Regions from separate parts of the Homo sapiens genome. Here regions 2 and 3 are each reported to be linked to region 1. Evidence: microRNA targets listed by miRTarBase, many of them from high-throughput screens and not tested one by one. Region 1 holds a microRNA gene; each other region holds the end of a gene's coding sequence.
What was found. Region 1 holds the annotated microRNA hsa-miR-3137 (UCUGUAGCCUGGGAGCAAUGGGGU, at 3,106-3,129, shown strand). A microRNA usually pairs through its seed, bases 2 to 8, with sites in the 3' UTR of a target mRNA and lowers its output. Matches are read on the target gene's strand: a 7mer-m8 pairs with bases 2 to 8, a 7mer-A1 pairs with bases 2 to 7 and ends in A, and an 8mer does both.

Region 2: the mRNA of PIP4K2C is a reported target of hsa-miR-3137. Seed matches in the 3' UTR shown: 7mer-A1 at 1,250-1,256.
Region 3: the mRNA of NBPF3 is a reported target of hsa-miR-3137. Seed matches in the 3' UTR shown: 7mer-A1 at 2,137-2,143.

Annotation. Positions count from the first base shown.
Region 1 is chr3:195,133,439-195,137,679 of GRCh38, reverse strand. MIR3137 (microRNA 3137) reads left to right here and starts at 3,100; the gene lies at 3,100-3,174. All of the region lies in intron 3 of XXYLT1 (xyloside xylosyltransferase 1), which reads left to right. RefSeq lists an enhancer at 4,172-4,241.
Region 2 is chr12:57,600,871-57,605,111 of GRCh38, forward strand. It overlaps PIP4K2C (phosphatidylinositol-5-phosphate 4-kinase type 2 gamma), which reads left to right. Exons shown (of 10, transcript NM_024779.5): 8 at 1-208; 9 at 375-478; 10 at 656-2,548. The coding sequence ends at 736. It overlaps DTX3 (deltex E3 ubiquitin ligase 3), which reads left to right and starts at 3,954. Exons shown (of 7, transcript NM_178502.4): 1 at 3,954-3,988. RefSeq lists enhancers at 3,324-3,835, 3,836-4,241.
Region 3 is chr1:21,482,413-21,486,624 of GRCh38, reverse strand. It overlaps NBPF3 (NBPF member 3), which reads right to left. Exons shown (of 15, transcript NM_032264.6): 14 at 4,090-4,141; 15 at 1,725-3,482. The coding sequence ends at 3,239. Among named protein-coding and RNA genes, the nearest start is that of ALPL, 25 kb to the left of the region's middle.

The DNA.
Region 1 (4,241 bases):
CTGTGAAGCCAAAGCAGGCAGTATTTACAGAGCACGGAGAGGTTAAATGTAGAGTGCGCAGCAGCACCACCTCTGAAGCCAGAAGGAATTTGTCCTGGCCTAGAAAGGGAGTGTGCTGTGCAGGAAGGAATCACCTTCTGCCTTGGATGAAGCTGCCACTAGCCCCTTTCTCTTCACGGTCTTTGAGGTTACAGGCAGGTGCACACCCTTACCCCACCCTTTACCCATGTGGGAAAACATGGCTTTGTGCTCTTATCCATGGTGCAGAAGACCAGTGCCGAAAGCCCAATGGCAAAGGTGCAGAAACTGTGGCCAGATTGGAGCTGACCATGTGTGGTTTTGTAAATTGCCAGCTGAAAATAGCTTCCAACAATATGGGGTCAAGGATTTTTGAAGCACCATTATTAAAGCATCTCAAACTTCAGTTTGTAATGCCCCTGTCCCTACATGTCACCCCTTCCCCTGCCCCAGAAGAAAAGTGTCACACCCCACTTTGTTTCTCCCTCCACTTTTTTCTTCCCTTCAGTGCCCCTTCTCTGTCCTGGCCCCCACAGCAAGCTGATGAGGCACCTGGGCACTGTGGCAGGCTGTACCTGTATGATTGAAGGATCCCATTGGCTGCCTGCAGCTAAGCCTAAGCTTGTGGACAGCCTCCTAGGACTCGAACGAGTTGCAGTGTAATCATCTCCTTTTAGACACTCAATCCTGTGCTCATTTCTCAGTTTGAGAACCTGTTTTCTGGGTCCAGGCCTTTCTGATGAAGGTTTTTACCCTTCGACGCCACTTCTAAAAATGGTCTAAAACAAAGAATAAGTTATTTATCTCCTTGGACCTCTGCTTGTTTTTATTTATTTATTTATTTTTCTTGTCCAGGCTGAAGTCTCCATGCCCTTTGACAGACATGCAGTGGCCTTCCTGGCAGCTCCCTGCGTCCTGTGAGCTGCCCACTTCACCTTGTGTGCTTCTGGCCAGGGCTTATAGCAGTGCTGTCGTCCTGTGTGCTTGAACGGTGCTCAACTGTGTGCAAATTGGTTTTACATTCATATTTTAAATTTGCTCCTCATACTAATTCAGTGACATAAGAACGCAGGTGGTTTTATCCTTGTTTTGTAGAAGACACTAAGTTTTCGGTAAGTTGCGTTCACCCGGGGCCGCTTGGTCAGGACTAGAACCCAGGTTCCTGGGCTCAGTCCCCTGCCTGTCCCCTCTGCCCCTGAGGTCCTGGAGTGATGGTTCTTAGACCACATCCTCTATTTCCTGAATTAGGAAATAGCAGCTCTTGAGATGTTTTGCAGTCTCCTACCCAGCCACCTTATAGCCTGGGTCACTGAGTCCCATTTATTTTTTTGGGCCGGGGTGGGTTGCAGTATACAGGTGTATGTTAAAGATAGTCTTTTCATTCAAACCTATAGGAGCACTGAGGGTCCTACGTTGGCGTTTGAGCGCTGTCCGAGTGGATCTCTCATCTCTGTCCACAGTCACATTTGGCAAAGGCTGCATTTCTGCTCTGACGTGTGGGGCTCTCTCCAGCAAAATGATGTTATCGCTTTTCCTCCCAGCATGGTGACGGCCCTGGTGATGCTGTGATCAGTGTGTAATTAAAGGCAGCCGTGCATGGCTGCTCTCAGACTGTTGCTGAGGGCTTCTGATCATTGGGAAATCTCAGTGGTGTAGGTTTTAGTGGAAACTGTATCCAGCCAGGCCATTCATAGCTTCTACACCATAGAGGGAATGTTGGTCATTATCAGAGGGCATGGGTTTCACTTTTTTATGTCTGCAGCCTGAGTCGGGTGAACCTTTCTCTTACCCTAGGGAAGCACTAGAATAATGCCTGCCTGCCTACCTGACTGCCGTCCTGCCATCCCCGTCTGTCCATCCGTCCATCCATTTATCCATCTAAGGTGACAGCAAAGATTTACTGTAGAAAATCTCTTTCCCACAGTAAAAACCTCTTTTCTACAGTAGAAAGCTCTTCCAGTCTGAGTTTCCGTGTCTGCCCCTTCAGTCACAGGAACCCCATCCTGCTATGTACTGCAAAAGCAGCTGACTTCTGCCACAGTGTCATTCCCGTGGGTCTCAGCCTCCTGGTGCTGAGGCCTAGGGACTGTGTTCCGAGCCAGCCTGGGTTCTCCAGGGAAGTGTGGAGGTGCCCAGTGTGTCATCTGCCCTGGAAAATGGAAGCCACTTGTACTTCACTGTCCTCCCTCCCATCTCCCAACACCCCTTTCTCTTCACTGAAATGCTGAACAAACCTCCCTGCCCCTGCTGACTGACTCTTTTTTGATAAGGGGATGGAAAGATAGACTCAGGTGCCTCGGGTCCAGTCCCTTCCTATCCACCTTGGTTTCCTCCTGTGTAAAATGAGAAAGGTGAATTGAACTATCTTTCCTAACTCTAGCAGACCATTATAGATTCTGTTGATATCGTCGCAGAATTCTGGGAATGGGAGGGACACCGAGGGTATCTCGCCTCATGTTGGATTCCGCCTGCAGCATCCCAGATCTGTCAGTCTCAAGCGGATCACCTCCCACAGTGGGGACGTGGCCACTTTCAGAGCAGCCCATTATTTGATGATTGGATGAGTTTGTTAGAATGTCTTTCTGTCTATTAAACCTAAAACAATCTACGCCCCTGTGGTTTCTACCCATTGCCCCTGCCAAACATACTCTGATGCCAAACGAAAACATGTCCTCACACCTTTCCCCACAAAAGTCCTTCAGATACTCAGATTTACAGAAAAGCTCTTATTTACTGAGTCGTCTTTGGAAATAGCTGATAGCTCTTTGCACGTGCGCGCACGCGCGCACACGCACACACACACACACACACACACACACACACACACACACACACCCCTCTTCACGCCATGATGCCAGCCAGTGGGAAATACGGATGGAAAGCGTTTCCTCTCTGCCAGGCTTCCAGAGGCAGGGAGCAGGCCTGTCTGGAGGAACTCTATGCAGACATACATTTCTTACCGGGGAAGCCAGGGCCCCAGCTTGTAGCTTTCTCCGAGTCCCTTCCTGGCATCCTGAAGATTAATCTTGTCAGCTGCTGGGAACACAAATGTGTGTGCTGATTCATTACAGTAGCATGGTATACAGGTCTGTAGCCTGGGAGCAATGGGGTGTATGGTATAGGGGTAGCCTCGTGCTCCTGGGCTACAAACCTGTACAACATGTTTCTGTACTGAACACTGTAGGCAGCTATAACACAGGGGTAAATATTTGTATATCTAAAAATACTTAAATATAGAAAAAGTACAGTACATAGAAAGAGTAAAACATGAAAAATGGTGCCTCTGTATAGGGCATCTACCATCAGTGGAGCTTGTAGGACTGGAAGTTGCTCCGGGTGCGTCAGTGGGTGAGTGTGAAGGCCTGGGACGTTACTTTGCACTGCTGTAAGCTTTTTCTATTCAGGCACCTGTAGGCTATGCTAAATTTATAGAAATAAATGTTCTTTCTTCAAAAATAAATTAACCTGAGCTTACTGCAGCTCTTTTCCTTAGAAACTTTTAAATTTTAAAAACCTTTTTGACTCTTGTAATAACACTCAGCTTAAAACACAAATATATTGTACAGCTGTACAAAAATTTCTTTCTTTCTTTCTGTCTGTCTGTCTGTCTTTTACTTGGCAGGGGTCTCACTATATTGCCGAGGTTGGTCTCAAACTCCTGGGCTCAGGCGACCCTCCTGCCTCAGCCTCCCAAAGTGCCAGGATTACAGGCATGAGCCTCCACACCCAGCCAAAAGTAAATACTTTTTCTTTTTATCCTTATTCTGTAAGCTTTTTTCCATTTTGTAAGTTTTTAATTTTTTAAAACTTTTTTGTTAAAAACAAGCCAAACACATACATCAGCCTAGGCCTGCACAGGGTCAGGATCCCCAAGACGTCACTAGGCAATGGGGATTTTTCAGCTCCATCATGATCTTCTGGCACCATCCTCTGTTCGTGTGTTCTGTCGTTGACTGCAACGTCGTCACGTGGTGCGTGACTGTATACAATGCTGCATGGCAACAAGTTGCCGAGAGTGTGCATCTGGGAGCGTTTGGCACAGCAGCTCGTCCGCCTCTGCTTGTTAGGCGTAGCAGAGGTGACTCAAATATGAAATGTTTATCATGCTGGAAGCTGAACATCTAGTTTTCTTGGTGCAGACACATTCATTTTTAGAGTTCAATAGATGCTGTCACTTATGGGACACATTTCTCCTGAAGGTCTTTGATCACATTTGCCTGTAG
Region 2 (4,241 bases), not on the chromosome of region 1:
CGGGGCTCTGAACCAGAGGAGGAAGCGCCCGTGCGGGAGGATGAGTCAGAGGTGGATGGGGACTGCAGCCTGACTGGACCTCCTGCTCTGGTGGGCTCCTATGGCACCTCCCCAGAGGGTATCGGAGGCTACATCCATTCCCATCGGCCCCTGGGCCCAGGAGAGTTTGAGTCCTTCATTGATGTCTATGCCATCCGGAGTGCTGAAGGTGAGAGAACCGGGACAATTTAAGGGTGGAGAGGGGATTTTTCCTGGAGGACAGAGACCAGAGTGCTGGGGGAGAGCCTGATTAGCTTTTCAGAACAAAACTGACTGCTTCCTGGAGAAAGGGAATTGGAACTAAACCTACTCTGAATTGTTGGTCTCTCTCCCAGGAGCCCCCCAGAAGGAGGTCTACTTCATGGGCCTCATTGATATCCTTACACAGTATGATGCTAAGAAGAAAGCAGCTCATGCAGCCAAAACTGTCAAGCATGGGGTGAGAGTTCGCAAAAGCCTTTCCTTTCCTGTCTTGACTATTCTTTGGGAATAGAGTCTCTTGTGCCAGAGCAATGGGGTGGCAAAAGAATGGAGGTGGTCTGGGGTAGATTGGGTGGGGGTGATGGGGACGGGTGCTAGGGTGGCCTGACATATTGTTCCGTATCTCCTCTCACAGGCTGGGGCAGAGATCTCTACTGTCCATCCGGAGCAGTATGCTAAGCGATTCCTGGATTTTATTACCAACATCTTTGCCTAAGAGACTGCCTGGTTCTCTCTGATGTTCAAGGTGGTGGGGTTCTGAGACACTTGGGGGAATTGTGGGGATATTCTAGCCACCAGTTCTCTTCTTCCTTTGCTAAATTCAGGCTGCAGGCTCCTTCCATCCAGATAACTCCATCCTGTCGAGTAGGCTCTTTCTGACCCTCAGAAATACATTGTCCTTTTTCCTCTTTGCCCATTTTTCTTCCCTCTCTTCCTCCCCATGAGAAGTCTGCTTGTAGTATTAGAATGTTATTGTTGACTCTCTCCCAAGTGCCTTGATCTTTGTAATATCTCCTGTTGTTTCTATGATATAGGAGCTAGGGGAAGGGGGTTGTTTGCCTTCTTCAGGACCTGACTGGACAGATGGACCTGGCTCAAGCAACTACTCTGGATGCACTTTGCTGTGTGGGATGAACTAAAAGTGTCTGAATTTTGCTGATAACTTTATAAAACTCACTATGGCATGCTTCCCTCCTGGTGGGCCCTAGGATGGATGACACTCAAGATACTACAGATGTGGGTGCAGGCATGCACACACACGATGGAATATGGCCATTCCTACACAGGTGGGGTAGAGAGTGGGTCAGCAGCCTGGCACCTCACAGAGGTGGGACCTAAGAGGACTCATGATTATGCAGAGAATTGGATTGGGTCTCTGTCATAGATTGAGTAATCTCTTCCCTTACCTCAATTCCATCTCCACCCATCTCTACATCTGGGCACAGCAACCCAGAGATGGCCAAAAGCATTCAAGCCTGGGGGAAGATGTTTGACTATTGCTGCTCTTCACCAGAACCTCACACCTCTCCTGGGACTGGAACCCTTCAGTGGGTGTGTGGCCAGTTTTGGAGGCTGGAATGATGGGCCAGGGTGTAGGATTCATTCTCCATGTAAAGTTTCCTTTCATCCTGCCTAGCCATCCCCAAGGTTTATTTCCAGAAGAAAGGAATATCTCTACTTGGATCAATTCTGGTCATTTCAAGAGGATGGAGGCCTCAAGTGTGGGAACTTCCCCTACTCCCTGGATGTGTGTACCTAGCACACTTCCTTCTCCCACCCCTTTTTCCAGTTGGATTTGTTTTTCTGTTCTCTTCTGTCCTGTCTTATACTGCAACTGTGTCTCCTAGGGGACAGATGGCCTTCTTTGTCATCTTCACTCTCCACCCCCAGAGAGGAGTCAGAGCCATAACTCAATCACTCAGCCCCTCCAAAGATAGTTGATGTGTGATAATCTCATAATGTTGAGAACCCTGATGAGATACATTGTCTTCCTCTCCCTACAATGCCTCTGGGGCCAAGGCACCCATTCTTCTTGCTATCCTCCATCCCCCTTGAGGCTTCCACTTTTTTTTTTTTTAGACATAAAGCTGGGCATCAGCAACTGGCCTGTGGTGATGCAAAGCTGCTTTGCTCTGTATCTGGCTGGACTGATCTGTCTCACAAGAAGCCATGAGGCCATAGGGAGAAGCTCCCTCTCCCCTTCATCTTCTGCTCCAAAGGTGGTAGCAAGAGGAGTACCCAGTTAGGGGTTGGAGCCCCCATATAACATCTTCCTGTCAGAAGACTGATGGATCTTTTTCATTCCAACCATCTCCCTTTCCCCCGATGAATGCAATAAAACTCTGTGACACCAGCAACCATTGCTCTTTAGAAATGGGTTTTCTGATCATATGGCTGATGTGTTATGGGCAGTATGGATGTCTTCATTTGTTGCTTCTGTTTTTCATCTTTTTTGTTTTATTAATAAAAATTTATGTATTTGCTCCTGTTACTATAATAATACAGGGAATAAATTATTCAATCCAAATTTCTGTACAGAAATGCCTTTTTTTTTTTTTTTTTAAATTTCACTTCTCTCAGGGAGCCTGTGTTTAAGGGTGCAGAGACCAGCTGAAGAATTCTGGTGTTCAAGGTGTTGGGCCCCTAACTAAGGATGTGGGTTTCTAGACAGATGGCTGTGAACTTTTTTAAAAAGGCTGTGAAGGGTGTGCACGGGAATGGAAAACTTAGTCTTTAACCTTGTGGGAGGTCAGCGGTAGTGAGGGCCAGGGAAGAGTAGGGTGATGGGACCCTTCCTCTTCCCAGAGTTCTGGGCTTGCTAACACTCCATCTTTGTAAAGGTGAGTAGGCCTCTCAGCCCACCAGCTAAAAGAAAAGGAATCTAGTATTCCCCCAGGCTTCCTGGGAAAGCTGTCCTCTTCCTGGAGGGAAGGAAGAGTACAGCAGGGTCCTGGGAAAGTGAAGAAAGTGACTAGCCCTCCAGTCTAGAGGGGGGAGTGAAAAAGGGGTGGATGAATAGAGGTTGTTGCCAGTTTGGGAGATTCCTGCCTGTCTTGGCTGAGGAAGTCTTTTGGCTGGTGGAAAAACCTGGCTTGATGTGGCCCCAGGGAAGTGAGTTGGATTGGGCGGAGACTGCTTGATGTGGGAAGCAGAGCAGAGCTTTTTTTTTTTCTTCTTTGAGAGTTTTTAACTCTATTTGAACCATACACTTGACACCACCACCACCTCGAGCCACTTTTTAAAAAATGTATTCGCTTCCCATTCTGCACCAGCCTCCATATCCCTGTTTGTGGAAAGAAAAATCAGAGGCACTGACCAATGATCATCTGAGAGCAGGTTGTGGGGGTCATAGGAGGTAACAATCTAGAAAGAGGCAGGAGATGAGGGAGGGGATTGAAATAGTTTAGTACCCGGATTTGTTTATTTTTTAGAGCCAATGCTTTTCTTTTTACTATGACTCTTCCCATCCCACATTGTTCCTCAAAGGCCCTTCTACCATAAGGATTCAAAAAATTGCCGCCCTCCCCCCGAATCCCCATATACCCACCAACACTTCACCCACCCATCCACCACCAGCTCCTGGGAGCTGCTACGCAGCTGGCTGGGAAAGAAAAGGGAGAGTGCTCCGCCGGGAGCGGGGAGCGAGTAGGGTGGCGTCTCCAGGGATTTAACCTCCTACCCTCAGTTCCATGACGCCACCCCCTCCCTCCAAAGACTGGGACAGCGCCTCCATTTTTGTTTTGGGGAGGAAGGGCAGGGGCTTGCGGATAGAAGGGGGTCAAAGGAACGGTGATTATCACCTGTGAGGGGAAAGGGGGTGCTGTCCTCCCTCCTTCCCTTTTCCTCAGCCTGCACCCCCTGCAATCCCCCACCTTTCGGGGTCTCCCCCTCCTTGTTGCTAAGGCCCGGACCGTCATCCCAGCAACAGCCTCAGTCATGTGACCGGCAATGGCGGCGCTGACGAGAGGTAGGTGAGCCCGGCGCCCCCCACACCCACCGCGCGCCCCCCGGGCCCCGCTCGCACCCCTCACGCGCCCCCCGCTCCCCCGGCGCCCCCTCCTCCACCTCCCCTCCCCGCGCGCGGCTCCGGGCTCCCCGCTCCGTGCCCGGCCGATCATCTTTCTAGCACCCTCCAGCCTTGGCCTCCATTCGGGGGTTCTGAGGGCTGCGATCGGGCCGACATGCACCCCCACCCGGCGGTGGGGATCCGGGGGCTTTGG
Region 3 (4,212 bases), not on the chromosome of region 1:
TTATTGTATTAGTGCTAAATTCTTGGATGTCAAATTCTTGGATGTTCCAGAGAGTGTTTCGCATGTGATTAAGATCGGGATGGGCAGACTAAGTGAAGCAGATTGCCCCCTTAACGGGGGTGGGACTCATACAATCAATCAAAGGCCAGGAGAGAATTAAGAGGCCTAATAGGAAACAAATGCTTTCCTGGGTATCCATCCAGCTTTCCTTCCATCTTGGGAATTTCAGCCTCCATAATCTCAGAAGCAAATTCACATATGTATACACACACATATACATTTCATAGGTATGTGGCTAAGAGTGTATTTTTAAAAGTTCAGCCATGAGATGATTGGTGAAGCCAGCCAATGAATAAGGGTGTGTTCTGTTATATGACTCGGTCTTCTTTTGTACACGATTGAAGTTCTGCATTTGAAGTAGGAGGACAGGAGAGAGCAAGACCACCTAGGATGATAACAGCTGAATTTCTCAACAGACACTTCAAAGCCCTAGGGGTTAACTTAGAGAGTCAAAAATCCCACCCATAACCCTGTCCCTAAACGCCAGGGCTAGGGAACACTGTGGCCCTCAGGTGATTTTCTTTCACTTGGTCTGGGAGCCACACAAGGGCAGAGGGAGCAGGAAACACTAAGCAAATCGAGGCCAGGACAGCAGGGAGGGCCTGTTCATGACAGAACACAGGTAAAACTATCCTCAGAAAGAGCATGTGGAGAAACACAGATCATGCCTGAGACCTGGTGGATTAGAGCACTGGCTACTGGGGAATTGAAAGGAAGGGGCTTCACCATGCAGAGGACCAGAGGTGCCAGTCCTGGAAACGCAGAATTGCTGGGAGATGGGGAGGCATGGACAAAGGAAGCATCCGCTGGAGACTCATGGTGAAGAGAACAAATGAAGTAACTGGCAGAAATTATAGGTCCTGGTAGAACAAAATAGAATCCCACAACGAGAACATACACCATGTATGTCCCGCAAGGAAGACAATAGCTCCTAAAAACACAAGAAAAATCATTTTGGGCAAACACCTTATATCCAGTAATGCGATCCATGTATCAAGACCGTGAGGAAGATTATTAAACATGCTAAACTCAGCGAGACCTGATTCCCTCATGAGGACTCTGTTAGGATGAGTACCACTCAGCAAGTGATGACTGTGACATTCACTTTTGAACAGCTCATGAGCATTAATATATTTAATTGTGGATCTAAACCAAAAACCAAGGTGTGGGCAAGATGACAACCACAGAATGTCACTGGTGTATGTTTAGGTTCAAATACGATTATGAGAAGTGGCAGGTAAAGGAGGTAGGAAAAAGAAAACACATCATGTAATTGACTGTCATATGGAAATATGTGATGTTGAAAGTCATAATTTAAAACGTATAAACCAAATATTAGAAGTGTGTCTAGTTCAAAGGGGGGAAAACTATGAAACATTTTTAGTCAATATCAAACATGAGCTACACAACCCTTCCTAAATGCCAGAGGCACACGCAGACACACACACACACACTCTCACAAAGAATATAAATATCTAGAACCAAGAAATGGAGTACATGCATTCTGCTACATATGGTAAACATAGCCTACAAGGTGGAAGAGATTAGAAAATAAACAGGGAAATGAAAATGTTTTTATTAATTCGCATCAGTACCCACCAAAACCAATCAGCATAACAAAAGATTATAACGCTGAATGTAAAAAACAATCCAACAGTCCAGAGTGATAGGCAAAAGTTTTTAATTGTATAGATTAAAATAACTTTGGACAAAAATTAAAACTCAGGCAGAGAATGTTTTTTTTTCAACAACACACACTAGCAAAAACAAAGGCACAGTAAACATTGAGGCAGCAAATTTCCAGCGTAGAGATATGAATATAATAATAGACACAGGCAGGGATGATTAATAAATGATAAAACGTTTAGAGGATGATCACTGGAATACAGGACATTTCTACTTTGAAAAACCACTCTCCCAAATACTTCATCATAAGTAAGGTGTCTCTAAAAGGGACAGATCTCCTAGACCCCTCCTTAACCAAGTAACCAGTCCTGATATCATGATAATGCTGATGGACAAACTAGACCTTCTCTGCCCACAGATGGGCTGAGGTTGGAAACTCACAGTATCGACTCTGTAGTGTTCTTGATGAAACGTTTAGGCTGAATTTAATCATGAAGACATTTTCAGACAACTTCAGAATGTAGACCATTGAGCCAGACAGCTGACCTGTCCTCTACAAACAAGTCCATGTCACCAAAATCAATGACAACAACAAAAAGATGAGGAAATATTTGGGGTTCAAAATAACTAAAGAAATGTAGCTACATTATCATTTACTTCTTCTGAACCCAAAATATCTCTCCTCCTTTTTGTTGTGTGATTCGTGGTGACGTGGACTGTGTGAAGGAGACAGGTCAGTTGTCCTGCTCAGTGTTCTACATTCTGCAGTTGTCTGGTGATTACCTCCTATGAAACTCAGGCTAAGCATTTTCTGCAAGAACATGGCATTGTTCATATTCTGCACTGGCAGAGTCCCAGGTGACATGCTGTCTCTTGCCAGCGGCTCCTGACTCCTGTTCTTTACAGGATGGAATTGAAAGGAGCAGGACTAAGGCCTCCCAATGCTGTTTGTCCGTCTAGCTGTGGTCTTCCTAAGTATTGATATCAATTGGAGGCTGAAGGACTATGGCTTCTCTACTCAAAGGAGCCTAGTGGGTTAACAACTGTCAAGAGCAGTCAGTGGTTCTGAAATACAATCCTCAGCCAAGGATCCCTCCTGTGTTACAGATGGATCAGCTAAAACAAACCAACACTGAAGATACAAAGAATGGGGTTAGGTTCAATGAAACCAGGGTAACACCTTTGGATGAGCTAAACACAAAGATGACACTGACCTTGAGCAGGTATAGAAGCTCAGAGACATGCCTGCAAAATGAAACCCCTGAGGAACTTTGTAGCTACCCAGAGATATCTGGTTCAAATTAGAATGTCTGGCAGATCACTCCCGGCATGTGCTACATAGTCGTGTGAACGTGTCACACCTAACTTGGGTCCAACGTCTTCAGACTGAGCACAGGTGGCCACTGGCATGGTCTGAGAATAGGAATAGAGCCATGCCCACTTTCCCATCCTATGACTGGGCTTCCAAAGGGAACTACAGTTTCATTCAAACCTACATGTGCCTATACGTCCTGCCTGCAGCAATGACATCTCTCAGCTTAGTAAGGGCTGCTTAGTGTGGGAATATGACTCCCATCTGGAAGGCCAGGTGGTGCCTTATCACTGTCAAAGTAAAAAACCTATTGTCCACGTCAAGGGCCAAGCTGACGTCCTGTTCCTCAAATGAGTAAAAGGCACTTCTATACTGCTGGAATGAGGCATGTAGTTGAAAGTAAGTTGAAGTAGTCGAATAACATCTATCCAGTGAGTCCTGCAAGACTTCAGGCTCTTCTGCTTCCATCAGCACCTCGTTGAGCCTGGAAAAGGAGACAAAACTAAAGAAGCAGCCAGGGAAAATCAGACACCACAGAGCCCCAACTAGATTTCAGGGGTAACATAAGGAAGTGGTCAAAAAAGGAAAAGGATAGTTCCATTAATGAGGTAAAAAAATTATTGCCTTTATGTTGGGATAGAACAGGGCCAAGTAGAAAACAATGAAAGAGAAAGACAGAGAGTGAGAGAGAGAGACAGAGAGAGAGAGAAAGTGAGCTCAGTGAATTGGCCAGGTGACACATTGATGAGGGAGTAAAAGGACACTGTGAGTTAGTGCCCTCAGGACACACAGCAAACAGTGATCATGAGAAGAGTGAGCTCAATAGTTTTCCATCAAGTGTGCTTAAAATTCCATGCAGTCGCCATAAGGGTACAACTTCTGAGGTATGGTCAACCTATGGTACATTAGTAAATGATAAGGGGAGGAAGAAATGAAAACCTAAACGTCTACTGCAATGAAAACCAATAGCAATGTCAGCAGGAGTAATTCAGCCTTCATTGAAAACATGAAATCAAACACACTGTTTTCCCTGGATCTGTTGTCTCCAGGTGTTAACACAGAATTAAGCGACCACAATTGCTGAAAGTTACCTGGGGCATGGTGGCTTTTGATCTTCTTCCCCTTCTTGGTACTTTTCAATTTCTGCAATAAATTCAGACATGGACAGACACATTAAGCTGATTCCCCTACACACATAACATTCCACTGTCTAA